Linked DNA regions of Homo sapiens: region 2 is linked to region 1. The links come from fine-mapping of genetic effects on gene expression. A gene starts in region 1. The other region holds a variant in brackets. All regions are shown on one strand. Distances are between the middles of the regions. Region 1 holds the start of GCFC2 (GC-rich sequence DNA-binding factor 2). Region 2 overlaps GCFC2 (GC-rich sequence DNA-binding factor 2).

Region 1 (8,347 bases):
GAGAAAACTCAGGATTCCTCCCCCTTTATTAAATAAGTTATCTTTATTTCATCCTCTCCCACCAAGGCAACACCCAGAGAAAATAATTTTTCTCACTTCTTTCCCTTAGAACAAATGTTTGATTTCTGTTTTAAATAGCAGAGTTTTTTCTATCTCCATCATATATCACCTATCTCTTAACATGTTTGCATTTAACAAGTTAGAGTGACTTGTTTTCCAGTTTTATTTTCGTGAGTGAACACAGATGTTTCAGAATTGCCTCATCCAACCATTTAGTTCATTGTGTTCATGTCAGTTGTGCACTAAACACTAAACTAGGTATAGGATATCAAAATGAGTAAAAGAAGGGCTCTGTCTGGGGAGGCAGTGTCTTTTAAAATGGGAAAGTAAACAATGAGTCCACATTAGCAGATGGCTCTGAACTCAGCCGAGAACAGTAAACTCTGCCTAGCGTTTTCACATTTTGGTTTAACATCGTTTGTGAGTTAGTGACTTTTGAAGGGAAAGAACAGCCTTCTAGAACACCAACATCACACTTAGATTGTCCTTAAATAAACTGCTGCCTTTTAAGCAACACTGGGAGTGAATTCTGTCCTGCTGACCCCCTTTCCAATTGCAACAAACACCTAAAATGACTTTGGAAGCTGGCAGAGAACCCTTTTTGAGGAGGTGCAGACAGATATCCCCTTATGGTGAACAACTTCTACACTTAAATAACCTTACTCACTTTGAATAGATTCTTATTAGTTTTCCTTTTGGGGGGCTATTTAGGTTTCTAAATTTTGAGGTACCTAACATTTACATGCTGTTACAATCTGATATGAAGTTCATCAATGATTAAGTTATTTAGACTATTTTTTAAGACTTCTTTTTTTTTTTTGGAGATGGAGTCTCACTCTGTCACCAGGCTGGAGTACAGTGGTGCGGTCTCGGCTCACTGCAACCTCCGCCTCCTGGGTTCAAGTGATTCTTCTGCTTCAGCCTCCCAAGTAGCTGGGATTACAGGCATGCACCACCACGCCCGGCTAATTTTTGTATTTTTAGTAGAGATGGGGTTTCACCATGTTGGTCATGCTGGTCTTGAACTCCTGACCTCGTGATCTGCCCACCTCGGCCTCCCAAAGTGCTGGGATTACTGGCGTGAGCCACTGCGCCCAGCCTTCTTAAGGGTGATTAATACTTAGTATCTGCTCTAGGACCTTGCTATTTAGAGTGATCCTCAGACAAGTATCCTCGCCTTCACCTGGGAGCTTGCTAGAAATGAAGACTCTTGGTTCCTACACATAGCAGCTCAATCAGTATCTATATGTCCACACTATTTCCATGTGCTTTGAAGAACATTAGATTTGATAAGCATTAGTCTAGGGCTTAGCATGGTGCCTGTGCTAGTAGGTGTATAATAAACACTGATTGAATTGTACGATATATTAATATGTTTCCTTAAGAGTGCATAACAGAACACTGAATTTCTCTCCAATTACAATCACGATCATCTTCCTCATTCTCCTCACTGTTTCAAAATGCTAGTCTTAGCTGGGCATTGGGGTATGCGCGTGTAGTCCCAGATCCTCAGGAGGCTAAGGTGGGAGGATCACTAAGCCCAGTAGGTCAAGGCTGAAGTGAGCTGTATTTGCACCATCGCACTGGGTGGCAGAGCGAGACTCTGTCCATAAAATTAACTAAACTAAAAATTATAGTCTCCTGTTTGGTTTAGCATTAACTACTTTATAGTGTAATTTGGAAAGATGTCCTCCTCTGCTAAGGGAGTACAGAGCAGTATCCATGGCAGAACTTGGGAATTCTGCATGGAAAGATGGCATCTGAAAAGCACTGGACCGAACGGAACCCACTTCTCCATCTCCAATCTTTAAAGTTTATTCTAACTACAAGGAGCACTTGGTCCATGATAGGAAGCTGTTCTTTCAGATGCCACAAGTATCTCTATTCTCCAGAAATATCTTTTTCACACCATTTGCCAATTTTCCAAAAGAAACACACAAAAAAACAAGTAGTTCTCTAATTTTACCTGGATTTAAAAAGAGAAGCCTCTCTTTATAATAAGACATTAATAACTTGTGAATAACTGATAATACTGTATCATATAATTTCCCAAATTTACATCAAGGAGTTTCAGTTTATTGAGAAAAGCCAAGAAAAAAAGACAAAGCCAAGAAAAAAAAATTCCGGGGCTAGGTCAATCAGAGAAACTTTGCCTCTTCTCGATTCCTTTGGTGACATATAGTCAGTGATACAATGGTAAATGTTTAATGACTGGATATCTGGGAGAAACACCTGGACTTCTAAGGTCTTCCAATTTATATGGTATAAGTAGTCCCTTTATGGCTGATTTCAAGGTGCCAATATTGTGTCCGGAATTGGTGGGTTCTTGGTCTCACTGATTTCAAGAATGAAGCTGCGGACCCTCGCGGTGAGCGTTACAGCTCTTAAGGTGGCGCGTCTGGGGTCTGCCCCTTCTGATGTTCAGATGTGTTTGGAGTTTCTTCCTTCTGGTGGGTTTGTGGTCTCGCTGGGCTCAGGAATGAAGCTGCAGATCTTCACGGTGAGTGTTACAGCTCATAAAAGCCACGTGGACCCAAAGAGTCAGCAGTAGCAAGATTTATTGCAAAGAGCGAAAGAACAAAGCTTCCACACTGTGGAAGGGGACCGGAGCGGGTTGCCACTGCTGGCTGGGGCAGCCTGCTTTTATTCTCTTATCTGGCCCCACCCACATCCTGCTGATTGGTAGAGCCCAGCGGCCTGTTTTGACAGGGCCGTGATTGGTGCGTTTACAATCCCTGAGCTAGATACAAAAGTTCTCCACATCCCCATCAGATTAGTTAGATACAGAGTTTCCACACACAGGTTCTCCAAGGCCTCACCAGAGCAGCTAGATAGAATGTCTATTGGTGCACTCACAAACCTTGAGCTAAACACAGGGTGCTGATTGGTGGGTTTACAAACCTTGAGCTAGATACAGAGTGCCGATTGGTGTTTTTACAATCCCTGAGCTAGACATAAAGGTTCTCCAAGGCCCCACCAGAGCAGCTAGATACAGAGTGTCGATTGGTGCACTCATAAACCTTGAGCTAAACACAGGGTGCTGATTGGTGTGTTTACAAACCTTGAGCCAGATACAGAGTGCTGATTGGTGTATTTACAATCCCTGAGCTAGACATAAAGACTCTCTATGTCCCCACCAGACTCAGGAGCCCAACTGGCTTCACCTAGTGGATCCCGCACCGGGGCTGCAGGTGGAGCTGCCTGCCAGTCCGGCGCCGTGCGCTCGTACTCCTCAGCCCTTGGGTGGTCGATGGGACTGGGCGCCGTGGAGCAGGGGGTGGTGCTCGTCGGGGATGCTCGGGCAGCACAGGAGCCCATGGAGTGGATGGGAGGCTCAGGCATGGCGGGCTGCAGGTCCCGAGCCCTGCACCGCGGGAAGGCAGCTAAGGCCCGGCGAGAAATCGAGCACAGCGCCGGTGGGCCGGCACTGCTAGGGGACCCAGTACACCCTCTGTAGCCGCTGGCCCGGGTGCCAAGTCCCTCACTGCCCGGGGCTGGCAGGGCCGGCCGGCTGCTCCGAGTGCAGGCCCGCCAAGCCCATGCCCACCCGGAACTCCAGCTGGCCCGCTGTCACCTCTCAATATGACGCCACTAAACATGGAGTTGATAACAGGTGTGCAGTAGCTCAACATTATATAGTATTTCTACCATACAGATACAGTAGTAGACAGAGCTTGATGAATATAGAACAAATTTGCGTCAGACAATAGCTTTTTGTTTTTAGATAGTTTCTTTAAGGGTGAAAACATTTAACCAGGCTCTCTTGAAGCCCTGCTGCCTGGGGGAAGTCATTTGATTTTTGCTAGTCTGTATGCATTGTTTATGTACAGACTTTATGGTTTTGTTCTCAAAGGCATCTCCTCCTACCCCGAGCCTCACACTGCTGGGGTTTCGTTTGTTTTAAATCTTGGTTGGAGGGGGCACTCTCTCCAGAAAGTAAAAGACAACGGATCTGGCTCCAGTCCAGGACGGAAAGCATAACGCTTGATTTCTGGATGGGGTTTGCACAAGGACAGCACGTGAGTTCTGCTCTCCGTGGGACTCAGACCGGATAGGCCGTGAAAATCTCTAAGGTGTCAGTCCACGCAACCTAACCTGGCAAAGGGAATGCTTTGCAAACTCAGGCCCCAGAACAGAACTCGGCCTACCAGATCCAGGGAGCCAAAGCACGCAGGCGCAGACAGAGTAGCGGTGAGCAGAAGGCAGGCGGGACGGGCGCGCGCACTCGGCGGCCAGGCGCGGCGGGAGCGCGCCCTAGGGGGCGGGCACTGAAGCTGCGGCTTGCGGTTCAGCGGGTTCTAGGGCGCCGGGCGCTCGGGCCTCGGCCATGGCTCACAGGCCGAAAAGGACTTTTCGGCAGCGCGCGGCTGATTCCAGCGACAGCGATGGCGCCGAGGAGTCGCCTGCTGAGCCTGGGGCGCCGAGGGAACTTCCGGTCCCGGGTTCTGCGGAGGAAGAGCCGCCCTCTGGAGGAGGCCGCGCGCAGGTGGCGGGACTGCCCCACCGGGTTCGGGGCCCTCGTGGCCGGGGCCGGGTCTGGGCGAGCTCCCGGCGTGCCACCAAAGCGGCTCCCCGCGCGGACGAAGGCTCAGGTGTCCAGGGAGACGCGGGGAAGCGGGGAGGTGACGGCACAGGGCGGGAAGGGGCCGCGGGGTCTCTGGATCCTTCTCTGGGGGTTCTATAACTTGCTGCCGACCACAAGCCATGCTGAGTCTTATCCAGAAAGACTTATCCAGAAGGTAGTGAGCGAGAAAATAGCTCGAGCACTTGCCCGCTATCTGCATCTGCCTTTTGGACTCCTTGGGGGAAATAAAACAATCGTGTACAGTTGGGAGGCTCTTCGTTTTCACCATCAGTTGACTCCATCAGTTATAACTAACACAGTTATCAAAGTTTATGAAGAACCTAAACTGTCACAACAAAGTTCAATAATTTATAATACTATTAAGTGGGCAGAAGTTATATGTACCTTTTAGACACTTGACCAACTTATCTTTCTTGAAAACATTTAGCCAGAGTAGTACAGGAATCTAGGTTTTGGGACATTCCCCTTTGTTTATTTTCTTTTTTCACCAGTTATTTGCAAAAACTAATAGTAATATATACAACACAAAGAAGCATGATAGAGATTCATGACACTGTAGATGGTACCAGTAATGGTGTTAGATATAGTGTCGTCATTTTGAAGTACCTTTGAGTTCTTAAATACAGGTGTAAGGCAGCATAAAGTTGTTTAAATAAAATGTGCTGCTCTGAGTTGGAATTGTAGCTTAATGAGGAATACGGTTTTTGGTTAGTCTTGAGAGCTAAAATCTTCCTATTATTTTTTATTGTCATTAAAGTGATTTTTATTAATTTATTGAGAAGTAAAAAATGTATATACTTATAGTGTACAACATGATGTTTGAAATGTGTCTACAGTGACTAAATGGAGCTAATTAACATTTGCTTTACCTTAGGTACTTACTTTTTTTTGTGGTGAGAACACTTACTATCTACTCTTACTAATTTTCAAGTATGCAATGCATTGTTATTAATTTTAGTCACCGTGTTGTAGAATAGAATTCCTCTTGTCTAATTAAAATGTGTGCCCTTTGACCAGTATCTTCCCAACTACCCTCAACCTCACTCAGTCCCTTCTAACCACTACTCGACTCTCTGCTTCTGTGATTTCTGATTTCCACTTTTTTAGATTACATATGTGAGATCATGTGGTGTTTGTCTCTCTGTGCCTGTCTTATTTCATGTAACATAATGTCCTCCAGGTTTATGATCTTCGTGATTTCTTGGTCTTTCTTGTGACCTTCTATTTGTCTAAAGTTTTCATGACCTTTTATATTTGTTTTCTGGTTAAACTTTGTAGATGAAAGTTGAAGTCAGGAGTTCCTTTTCTCTTGCCTTCTAGAATAGTGGTTCTCAAACTCTTTGGGAATTGGACCTCTTTTAGACTCTTAGAAATGATTAAGGATTCCAAAGAGCTTTTGTTTCAGTAGGTTATACCTATCAATATTTATCACACTAAAAATAAAATTTATTAATTCACTTACAAAAAATCTATTACATGTAAGGATAAGTAAGATTTTTGTGAAAAGTATTACCCCAAAAAAGGAAGAGTAGCATTGTTTTCAATTTACAGATCTCTTTAATGTCTGGCAAAATATTAATAGAAGACAGATGAATTGTCATAGGTGTTTCTGCTTTTAATCTCTTGTGCTATTTTGTTTTGGTTGAAGTATTTGAAGAAAATACAGCCTCTGACAGATACATGATTAAGACGAGTACTTAATAGCATTTTTAGATCATTGAGGGTGTTGTGCTTTAATATAACACAGCTCAACAAGTAATAAACTAACCCTTCTTAAAAGTTAGTTGCGGGCCGGGCACAGTGGCTCACACCTGTAATCCCAGCACTTTAGGAGGCCGAGGCAGGTGTATCAAGAGATCAGGAGTTCGAGCCCAGCCTGGCCAACATGGTGAAACCCCATCTCTACTAAAAATACAAAAATTAGCCAGGCATGGTGGTGGGTGCCTGTAATCCCAGCTACTCAGGAGGCTGAGGCAGAGAATCACTTGAACCCGGGAGGCAGAGGTTGCAGTGAGCTGAGATTGTGCCACTACACTCTAGCCTGGGTGACAGAGTGAGACTTTATCTCAAAAAAAAAAAAAAAAAAAAAAAAAAAAGTTGCCAAATGGATTCTTAAACCATATGATTAAATTTGGGGTGCTCTTACCTTAAAACTCTGTTCTGTTTTGTACTTTGGATCTTTTACTCATGAACGATTGGTAACATCTTGCATTATTTGGAAGGTATTCATTAGCTGAGTTTGCAGATCTTGCAAATGTTGGAGCATTTTATTGTACAATACCAAAAAAATCATAGTATTACCACTGATTAATCAGTCTGTAAGTACTGGAAAGCTGTTAGGTTCACAGTAGAGAATATAAGTTTTCCAAAATCTCAATTTTCACTTGAAATCTCTCATTTTATTGATAGGCACAACCGGGCTCATGTTTTGAGAAAATGTTTGTCAGATAGCCATGTCTGAATAATCGGTTTGTTAGTCATTCTTTCAAGTAAAATGGTGATGCTTCTTAAAAACAACGTCTAGTTCAGCTTGCAACTCAGTCACACAAATGCTTTTCCTTAAGGCAGCCATTGCATTTCAAGATGCAGCAAAAGTGCCTTATGAATACTTTGATTTTGTCACAAAGAATATTAAACATGTGTACTCAAGGGTCAAAATTTAATAAAATAACAATTTTTTAATTAGTTCATGAAGAGCAACTGGCTTTTTTCTGCCATGTGAGGTAAGGAAAAATACCATAACTGCTACTACAAATTGATTCATTCATGCCAAGAGCCTAGCAGTTTTACCCATCACTGCCTTTACTTCATTATATAAATATCAACATGGTAAAAAGAACAAATAACATGTTATTATTGTGATGAAAGTAGTTTTAATTTCACAGACTCTCTGAAAGAGTCTCAAGGACCTCCAGGGATTGATAAACCATGCTTTAAGACCCACTGCTTTGGTGTTAATCCACTTTGGAAACAGGTATGGGTTGTCATAAATGACAATATCTAAGAAAGATGTGAGCTGCAGCTATATTTTTTTTAGTGTTTTAAATTTTGATTTTACTCCAGCCTTTTTTGAACTGTATGTAGGTCTTCTAACTAAGGTAGAAAATTAAAATTAATGAGTAGTATGTAATCTTATGTTTTAAGGTTACTCATAAAGATTGCAAATTTATTGTGGATTAAGAAATCCTTTCTTGTCAATAATGTCAAGAATTCCTTTATTTTGTTCATTCAATTTTCACAACACCCCTGTGGGTTTTATCTTGGTGTTATCTTTGTTTAACAGATTAATTGAATTTAACAGACTATTTACCTTCCCAAATCATGCATTGAAAAGATGGACCCATGGTTTAATATTGACCAAAGTGCTCGTTACAATATTTCTCGCCACCAGCCGTTGAAATATGGCATACTATAAAGAGAGCCTAAGTTCTGAAGTTGCCTGGGATTAGGTTGACAGCCCTGCTTCTCCACTGCCCGAGTTGGTGTTCTTTATCCTCTCAATCCTTAGTGAACTCATCAGAAATTGCATTTACTTTATAGAATTACAGGTATTAAATAAGTCATGTAAAACAGGTTTCAGTGTGCCTAGTACATAGTATACATTAAATATTTTTCTTTTCTACTTATTCACAATCATTACTATTCTAAATATTACTTCATTTTTTGTCGCTTTTTTTTTCTCTAATGCCTCCTTCCCTTTTC
Region 2 (8,347 bases), 31 kb after region 1:
CACAATGGTTGAACTAGTTTACAGTCCCACCAACAGTGTAAAAGTGTTCTATTTCTCCACATCCTCTCTTTTAATTGTGATGTTAGGATGTCGATTTTAGATCTTTCCTGCTTTCTGTTGTGGGCATTTAGTGCTATAAATTTCCCTCTACACACTGCTTTAAATGTGTCCCAGGGATTCTGGTACGTTGTGTGTTTGTTCTCATGGTTTCAAAGAACATCTTTACTTCTGCCTCCATTTCTTTATTTACCCAGTAGTCATTCAGGAGCAGGCTGTTAAGTTTCCATATAGTTGTGCGGTTTTGAGTGAGTTTCTTAATCTTGAGTTCTAATTTGATTGTACTGTGGTCTGAGAGACTGTTTGTTATGATTTCCATTCTTTTGCATTTGCTGAGGAGTGTTTTACTTCCAATTATGTGGTCAGTTTTAGAATAAGTGTGATGTGGTGCTAAGAAAAATGTATATTCTGTCGATTTGGGGTGGAGAGTTCTATAGATGTCTATTAGGTCTGCTTGGTCCAGAGCTGAGTTCAATTCCTGGATATCTTTGTTAATTTTCTGTTTCATTGATCTGTCTGTTATCGACAGTGGGATGTTAAAGGCTCCCACTATTATTGTGTGGGAGTCTAAGTCTCTTTGTAGGTCTCTAAGAACTTGCTTTATGAATCTGATCTGAGTGCTGCTGTATTGGGTGCGTATTTATTTAGGATGGTTAGCTCTTACTGTTGCACTGATCCCTTCACCATTATGTAATACCCTTCTTTGTCTCTTTTGATCTTTGCTGGCTTAAAGTCTGTTTTATCAGAGACTAGGACTGCAACTCATGCTTTTTTTTCTTTTTTCTTTTTTTTTTTTTTTTTTTTTGCTTTCCATTTACTTGGTAAATATTCCTCCATCCCTTTATTTTGAGCCAGTGTGTGTCTCTTTACATGAGATGGGTCTCCTGAATACAGCACATTGATGGGTCTTGACACTTTATTCAATTTGCCAGTCTGTGTCTTTTAATTGGGGCTTTTAGCCCATTTACTTTTAAAGTTAATATTGTTATGTGTGAATTTGATCCTGTCATTATGATGCTAGCTGGTCATTTTGCTCATTAGTTGACGCAGTTTCTTCATAGCGTTGATGGTCTTTACAATTCGGTATGTTTTTGCAGCGTCTGGTACCAGTTGTACCTTTCCATGTTTAGCGCTTCCTTCAGGAGCTCTTGTAAGGCAGGCCTGGTGGTGACAAAATCTCTCAGCATTTGCTTGTCTGTAAAGGATTTTATTTTTCCTTTGCTTATGAAGCTTAGTTTGGCTGGATATGAAATTCTGGATTGAAAATTCATTTCTTTAAGAATGTTGAATATTGGCCCCCAGTCTCTTGTAGCTTGTAGGGTTTCTGCAGAGAGATCCGCTGTTAGTCTGATGGGCTTCCATTTGTGGGTAACCCAACCTTTCTTTCTGGCTGCCCTTAACTTTTTTTCCTTCATTTCAACCTTGGTGAATCTGACAATTATGTGTCTTGGGGTTGCTCTTCTCGAGGAGTATCTTTGTGGTGTTCTCTGTATTTCCTGAATTTGAATGTTGGCCTGCCTTGCTGTGTTGGGGAAGTTCTTCCGGATAATGTCCTGAAGAGTGTTTTCCAACTTGGTTCCATTCTCCCCATCACTTTCAGGTACACCAATCAAACATAGATTTGGTCTTTTCACATAGTCCCATATTTCTTGGAGGCTTTGTTTGTTTCTTTTCACTTTTTTCTCTAAACTTGTCTTCTCGCTTTATTTCATTGAGGTGATCTTCAGTCTCTGATATCCTTTCTTCCACTTGATCGATTCAGCTATTGATACCTGTGTATGCTTCACGACATTCTCATGCAGTGTTTTTCAGCTTCATCAGGTCATTTGTATTCTTCTCTAAACTGGTTATTTTAGTTAGCAATACCTCTAACCTTTTTTCAAGGTTCTTAGCTTCCTTCCATTGGGTTAGAACATGCTCCTTTAGCTCAGAGGAGTTTGTTATTACCCACCTTCTGAAGCCTACTTCTGTCACTTCGTCAAACTCATTCTCCATCCGGTTTTGTTCCCTTGCTGGTGATGAGTTGTGATTCTTTGAAGAACGGGCATTCTGGTTTTTGGAATTTTCAGCCTTTTTGCACTGGTTTCTCCCCATCTTTGTGGATTTATCTACCTTTGGTCTTTGATGTTGGTGACCTTCAGATGGGGTCTCTTAGGGTACATCCTTTTTGTTGATGCTGATACTATTCTTTTCTGTTTGTTAGTTTTGCTTTTAACAGTCAGGCCCCTCAGCTGTAGGTCTGCTGGAGTTTGCTGGAGGTCCACTCCAGACCCTGTTTGCCTGGGTATCACCAGCGGAGGCTGCAGAACAGCAAAGATTGCTGCTTGTTCCTTCCTCTGGAAGCTTCGTCTCAGAGGGTCATCCGCCAGATGCCAGGCAGAGCTCTCCTCTGTGAGGTGTCTGTCGGCCCCTACTGGGAGGTGTCTCCCAGACAGGATACACAGGGGTCAGGGACCCACTTGAGGAGGCAGTGTGTCCCTTAGCAGAGCTCGAACACTGTGCTGAGAGAACCACTGCTGTCTTCAGAACTGTCAGGCAAGGACGTTTAAGTCTGCTGAAGCTGCGCCCACAGCCACCCCTTTCCCCAGGTGCTCTGTCCATGGAAGATGGGGGTTTTATCTCTAAGTCCCTGACTGGGGCTGCTGGCTTTTTTCAGAGATGCTCTGCCCAGAGAAGAGGAGTCTAGAGAGGCAGTCTGGCCGCAGTGGCCTTGCTGAGCTTCGGTGGGCTCTGCCCAGGTCGAACTTCCCGGTGGCTTTGTTTACACTGTGAGGCATAAACCGGCTACTGAAGCCTCAGCAGTGGCGGACACCCCTCCGCCTACCAAGCTGAAGCATCTCAGGTTGGGCTCAGACTGCTGTGCTGGCAGTGAGAATTTCAAGTCAGTGGATCTTAGCTTGCTGGGCTCCGTGGGGGTGGGACCCACCAAGCCAGACTACTTGGCTCCCTGTCTTCAGCCCCTTTTCCAGGGTGGTGAATGGTTCTGTTTCTCTGGCGTTCCAGGTGCCACTGGGGTATGAAAAAATAAAAATTAAAAAAAAAGCCTGCAGCTAGTTTGATGTCTGCCCAAACAGCCACCCAGTTTTGTGCATGAAACCCACAGCCCTGGTGGGGTAGGCACTGGAGGGAATCTCCTGGTCTGCCGGTTGCGAAGACCGTGGGAAAAACACAGTATCTGGGCTGGAGTGCACTGTTCCTCCTGGCACGGTTTCTCGTGGCATCCCTTAGATAAGGGAGAGAATTCCCCAACCCCTTGTGCTTCCCAGGTGAGGCAACACCCAACCTTGCTTCAGCTCACCCTCTGTGGGCTGCACCCACTGTCCAACCAGGCCCAATGAGATGAACTGGGTACCTCAGTTGGAAATGCAGAAATCACCGGCCTTCTACGTCCATCTCGCTGGGAGCTGTAGACTGGAGCTGTTCCTATTCGGCCATCTTGGCAGCCTCCTTACACTGAGGGGGATTATTTTTAATACAAGATAAATAGTTGTTTGTAGGGTGATGGAAAAAATCTAGTACAAGTGATGTCAATACCAAAGTGGAAGGACAGTGTTCTGGGAACAGGATCTTAGACTAAGCCAAAAGGCTTGGGATCTCATCCACAAAATAAACAGTTTGCCTGAAGTGGTGGGAGTGTGGGTGCCTCATCCATAGGAATAGGAGACAAGTTAGAGCATATCGGCACAGATGTAGGTAGGTGTGTAGATGCTGTGGTAGGAGCTTCATAGTGCTGCTTTTCTGATTGCTTCTATTTTCTTAGCAAATTAGGAAGTAATTAGCTGAAAGAGAATGCAAGGGAGTAGAAAAAATAAAGTAGGAAATAATCATCTAGAAGGAAAAAGTCCATCAACTGAGAGAGAGATAACGGAGAGGGGAGAAGGTATGAAGTAATCATCTAGGTGAGAGGGAGAGTGAATGGACCTGAGAGACAGAGAGAGAGAGAGGCTCACTCAAGTTGTATAGTGATCAAGTTAATGTGTTTGTTTTTCCAGCCACTTTTTATCTGCATGGTTGCAGGCAGAGACTCAGTGACAAGGTGAACTTAACTATAAAGAGCTGTAGTTTAGCCAGAGGAGTTTAACAAAGCCCAAGAAGAACAAGGAAATTGAAGATGTATGCAAATATGTAATGGTAATAATTGGCCATGGAACTTAAACTGAATAAGGAGGGAAGTAGTGTTTGTTAAAGGTCTTGATTATTTGTATATGAAAAGCAAAACAATCTAGTAAATACATTGTGTACCACTGAAATATTTGTTTCAGACTTTGTAGAATTCCTTTGGGATCCTTTGTCAACCTCACAGACAACAAGTTTAATAACACATTGCAGAGTGATTCTTGAAGAACATTCC[A/G]CTTGTGAAAATGAAGTTAGTAAAAGCAGACAGGTAATAATTTCTAGAGTTGCGAACTCCATGATCTATCTCTAAATCATTATAATTTTCTTACAGATCTTGGTTTATAAAAGATGCAGAAGTGATTATCAGAAAACTGTTTGGGGGAAAACATATTTACTTTTGATTTATAGAAACTAGACTTTTTCTCAGACTGCACTGAGATGAAAAAAAAATTTTTTAAACTGGACTTGGCTATTTTTTATCTTTATAATAATAAGATGAAAGAATATACCTTGATACTTCTCAACACTGTGATAGGAGTGGTAATCATTTTAAATTATAGACATACATGTAAGGACCCAGATTATGACTTTCATTCCTATTAGCTTACTTTTCTCTGTTCAGTGATCTGATTTGTGTTCTCATGGCCCAGGCAGCCATCTTTCAGGATTATGAATATACACTGGCCCTGCAGAGATGAACCGGTATAAATTCATTAGTGCAAATTCATTTCTTCTAAAGGAAGACAACAATACTCATTACCTTTGTTCTTTTGGCAAAAATCCAGTGGCATTGTGGCTTTGCTTGAACAATGGTTTCAAAATTAGACTGACACTTATTGTATTAACTAGTTATTTGTAGTCTACCAAATAATAGTAGTCTCTTTAAGGATTCAAAGTTCAGTAAAACAGATCTTAATCTTACAATGATCTAGAATTGAATTCAGTGAACATAAGACATATTGGGGAACTTTTTAGAGTGATGTTGCTGAGAATCTTCTCACTCTTTCATTGTAGCATTTTTTTTTATTGTTTGTTGATGAGATTGTAGATTCATGCAGTTTTATGAGTAAACCAATTTTAGGTTGAGCTTTAGGAAATTAAGGAGAAATTGACAGACTGGAGAATGCCCGGAGTAGAATGACAGAGGTGGTTGAAAAGCAAGGAGGCATATCATATTCATATTATGAGCACCATTAAGTTTTAGCCCTTGGAACTGTGATTACAAAGGAGGATAGCTGTAAGAAATGAAAGGGAGAAAAGGGATACCAGCCTAATTCTGCCTTCAAGAAGCATGTAATCTCAGAGAAAATAAGATGCACATAAACTGTAACTTAAAACTGGAAGTGAAAAGGAGAAGTAGGGAAGATAACAAACACTTATTTAATTCCAATTGTGTACTAGGCACTCTGTAAGGTCTTGTACCTGTCATCTTAATCCCAGCAGCCCTATTTAAAAAATGGGTGATCGCCAGGTATGGCAGATCACGCCTGTATATCTGAGTGCTTTGGGAGGCTGAGGCAGGAGGATCTCTTCAGGCCAAGAGTTCAAGACCAGCCTGGGCATCATAGCAAGATCCATCTCTACCAAAAAAATAAAAATTAGCTGGGCTCCCCCTTGAGCCCAGGAGTTGAAGCTGCATTGAGCCTTGATTGTGCCACCACACTGCAGCCTGGGCAACAGCAAAACCCTGTCTCTTAAAAGGATGACAGCCTCATTTTATAGATGAAGAAAATGAATCTTTAAAACTAGTTGTCACAGTGCTACTATGAATGAGCACTAGGATTTGAACTTGGATAGTCTGCCTCTAAAGCCCAAGTTTGCCTCACTGACCATGTTGCCTCCCCTTGAGCAGCATAGATAAAGTACTGTGTCTTCAGGAGAGAGACAGGAGAGAGAGGTTACCTTCAGCAGTGGGGATAAGGAAATAATTTATCTTAGGGGTGGCATTTGAACTGTGGCTTGAGGGAAAGAATAGGATTTCAACATGTGGCAACAGAGAGAGAGGCATTTTCTGCTTACCTCCAATAGGATAAAAACTCAAGTAAAATAGATGGAAACTGTTGCAGGAATTAGAGATATTTAATTTGAAAGATGTACAGAGAGATGCTGTTTGTATTCAAAGAAGGTATAGATTTATTCTGTGCTGTTATGCAGCATAGAACCAAGATTAGTAGTTAAAAGCTACAAAGAAGCAGATATATAATCCTGCATTTGCTTTCCATATAGTATTGTTTAGTTATAACCTAAATGTAAATCATTATGCTTTACCATTTGTTAAATACTTTCACATTGTCTCATTTGATCCTCATAACCCTGTGAAATGTATTTATTTTAATTGCATTTTTACAGATGAAGCTGGGGCCCAGAAGGGTTAAGTCATTTTTGAAATACTTGAATACTAAGTGGTAGACCTGGCTCTTTGTGATCACTGAAGCCCTTCAGCAGTATTATGGATTCACTCATGAAGTCTTTTTTTTTTTTTTGAGGCGGAGTCTTGCTCTGTCACCCAGGCTGGAGTGCAGTGGTGTGATCTTGGCTCACTGCAACCTCCGCCTCCCAGGTTCAAGCAATTCTCCTGCCTCAGCCTCCCGAGTAGCTGGGACTACAGGCACCTGCCACCATGCCTGGCTAATTTTGTGTGCTTTTAGTAGAGACGGGGTTTCACTGTATTAGCCAGGATGGTATTGATCTCCTGACCTTGTGATCCGCCCACCTCGGCCTCCCAAAGTGCTGGGATTACAGGCAAACTCAAGCAGTTTTTATAATGGATGTTTTTATTCTGAAACCGCTCTGCTGTGAATGTAGAAAATGGGTTGTTTTCATAAGCAGGAGAATAGATTACATCAGGGTTTTCAGTCTCAGCACTACATTGGCATTTGGAACAGATAATTTTTTGTTGTGAGGGTTTGTCCTGTGCACTATAGTATGCTTAGCAGCATCCCTGGCTTGTGCCCACTAGGTGGCAGTAGCACTCCCCGGTCTTCACAACCAAAAATGTCTACACATTGTCAGGTATTCCCTAGGGATGGCAAAATGGCACTTGGTAGAGAATCACTTACACTATATAATGCCCCATGTTGCTAAGACAGTTCACCAGTGGGATCACTCCATTTCTTCAGTGATGAAAGAGAATGAGGTTCAAGAATGAAAATTGAGTCAGACAACATAGTTTCTGTTTTCAAAGTTAGAAGGAAATGCTGTAAGCTAATGCCTGGTAATAATAGTTTTGATTCTGACTAAAAATCTAAAGTAAATTATTATAGAGGAAGATTATGAATACTTAAATTTAAAAAGCAGTAATTACTATAATCTGTCATTGATAGGATTCCCAAATACAAATGATACTTAACATTGTTTATTGAAGCAAATTGTTATTATGATTGTTCTTAGGGATTAAATGGGGAAATATAAGCTTAAGTAAACCTAAAAAATAATGGCCAGTAGGGCATTGGCTACCTATGGGGAGTCTGTTAGTATTAGATATCTTCTCAGCTTTGCCCTGTTCAATATTTTTATTGAACTGGATAAGGAGTTAAAATACATACTAATGAAATGTGTCAGTGACAAAAAGCTAGGAATTCTGTAAGACTTGTGGATGGTAGAATTAGAATCCAAGAAGATTTCAAAAGATTGTAGAAAATTGACTGATTCAAGAAATTGTGAAAAAATAAATGCATGTCCCACCCATGCGTTTAAAAATTCAACTATATAAGTAAAAGATGAGAGAGACACAGTTTTGAAGCAGCATAAGTAAGACAGATTATAATCAATAAACCCAGCGTGAGTCAGCAGTGTCACTTGAGTAACAGAAAACAGGTACATGGGAGTTTCTCCTAGTATGTGTGTGCTATTTTGAGTAAGAATGGCATATTTGGTGATAATACCCACAGATTAGACCTTCCTGGGAATATTGCATTTAATTTTCGGTGTAAGCATATTAAGTGGAGAGTGTCTTAAGATAGTATGGGAAAGAGAAGATGTAAAAAAAAAAAAAGTATGATATTCATCTTAAAATCTAGAAAATTGTCATGTGGAAGTGGGGCTAGTTCTATTCTATATGATCCCAAGAAGTAAACCAAGACCAAGGAGTGGAAGCTGTGGGAGGGAAAAGTTTGTTAACTCTCATTGTTAACTGAAATCTAATAGTCCAAAGTTATGGGCAGCCTCAGGAGAT

Evidence for each region.
Region 2: its variant is fine-mapped to the expression of GCFC2 in nasal epithelium (TOPMed, PIP 0.93).

What each region holds. Positions count from the first base shown.
Region 1 is chr2:75,706,896-75,715,242 of GRCh38, reverse strand. It overlaps GCFC2 (GC-rich sequence DNA-binding factor 2), which reads left to right and starts at 4,328. Exons shown (of 17, transcript NM_003203.5): 1 at 4,328-4,652. The coding sequence starts at 4,388. It overlaps LOC105374813 (a long non-coding RNA gene), which reads right to left and starts at 4,304. Exons shown (of 3, transcript XR_940260.2): 1 at 4,209-4,304. RefSeq lists an enhancer at 2,947-3,518 and a silencer at 4,497-4,796.
Region 2 is chr2:75,676,287-75,684,633 of GRCh38, reverse strand. It overlaps GCFC2 (GC-rich sequence DNA-binding factor 2), which reads left to right. Exons shown (of 17, transcript NM_003203.5): 12 at 4,320-4,441. LOC124906025 (a long non-coding RNA gene) reads right to left here. Exons shown (of 2, transcript XR_007087113.1): 1 at 4,782-8,347. Among named protein-coding and RNA genes, the nearest start is that of GCFC2, 30 kb to the left of the region's middle. The variant A/G (reference allele first, on the strand shown) is at 4,409.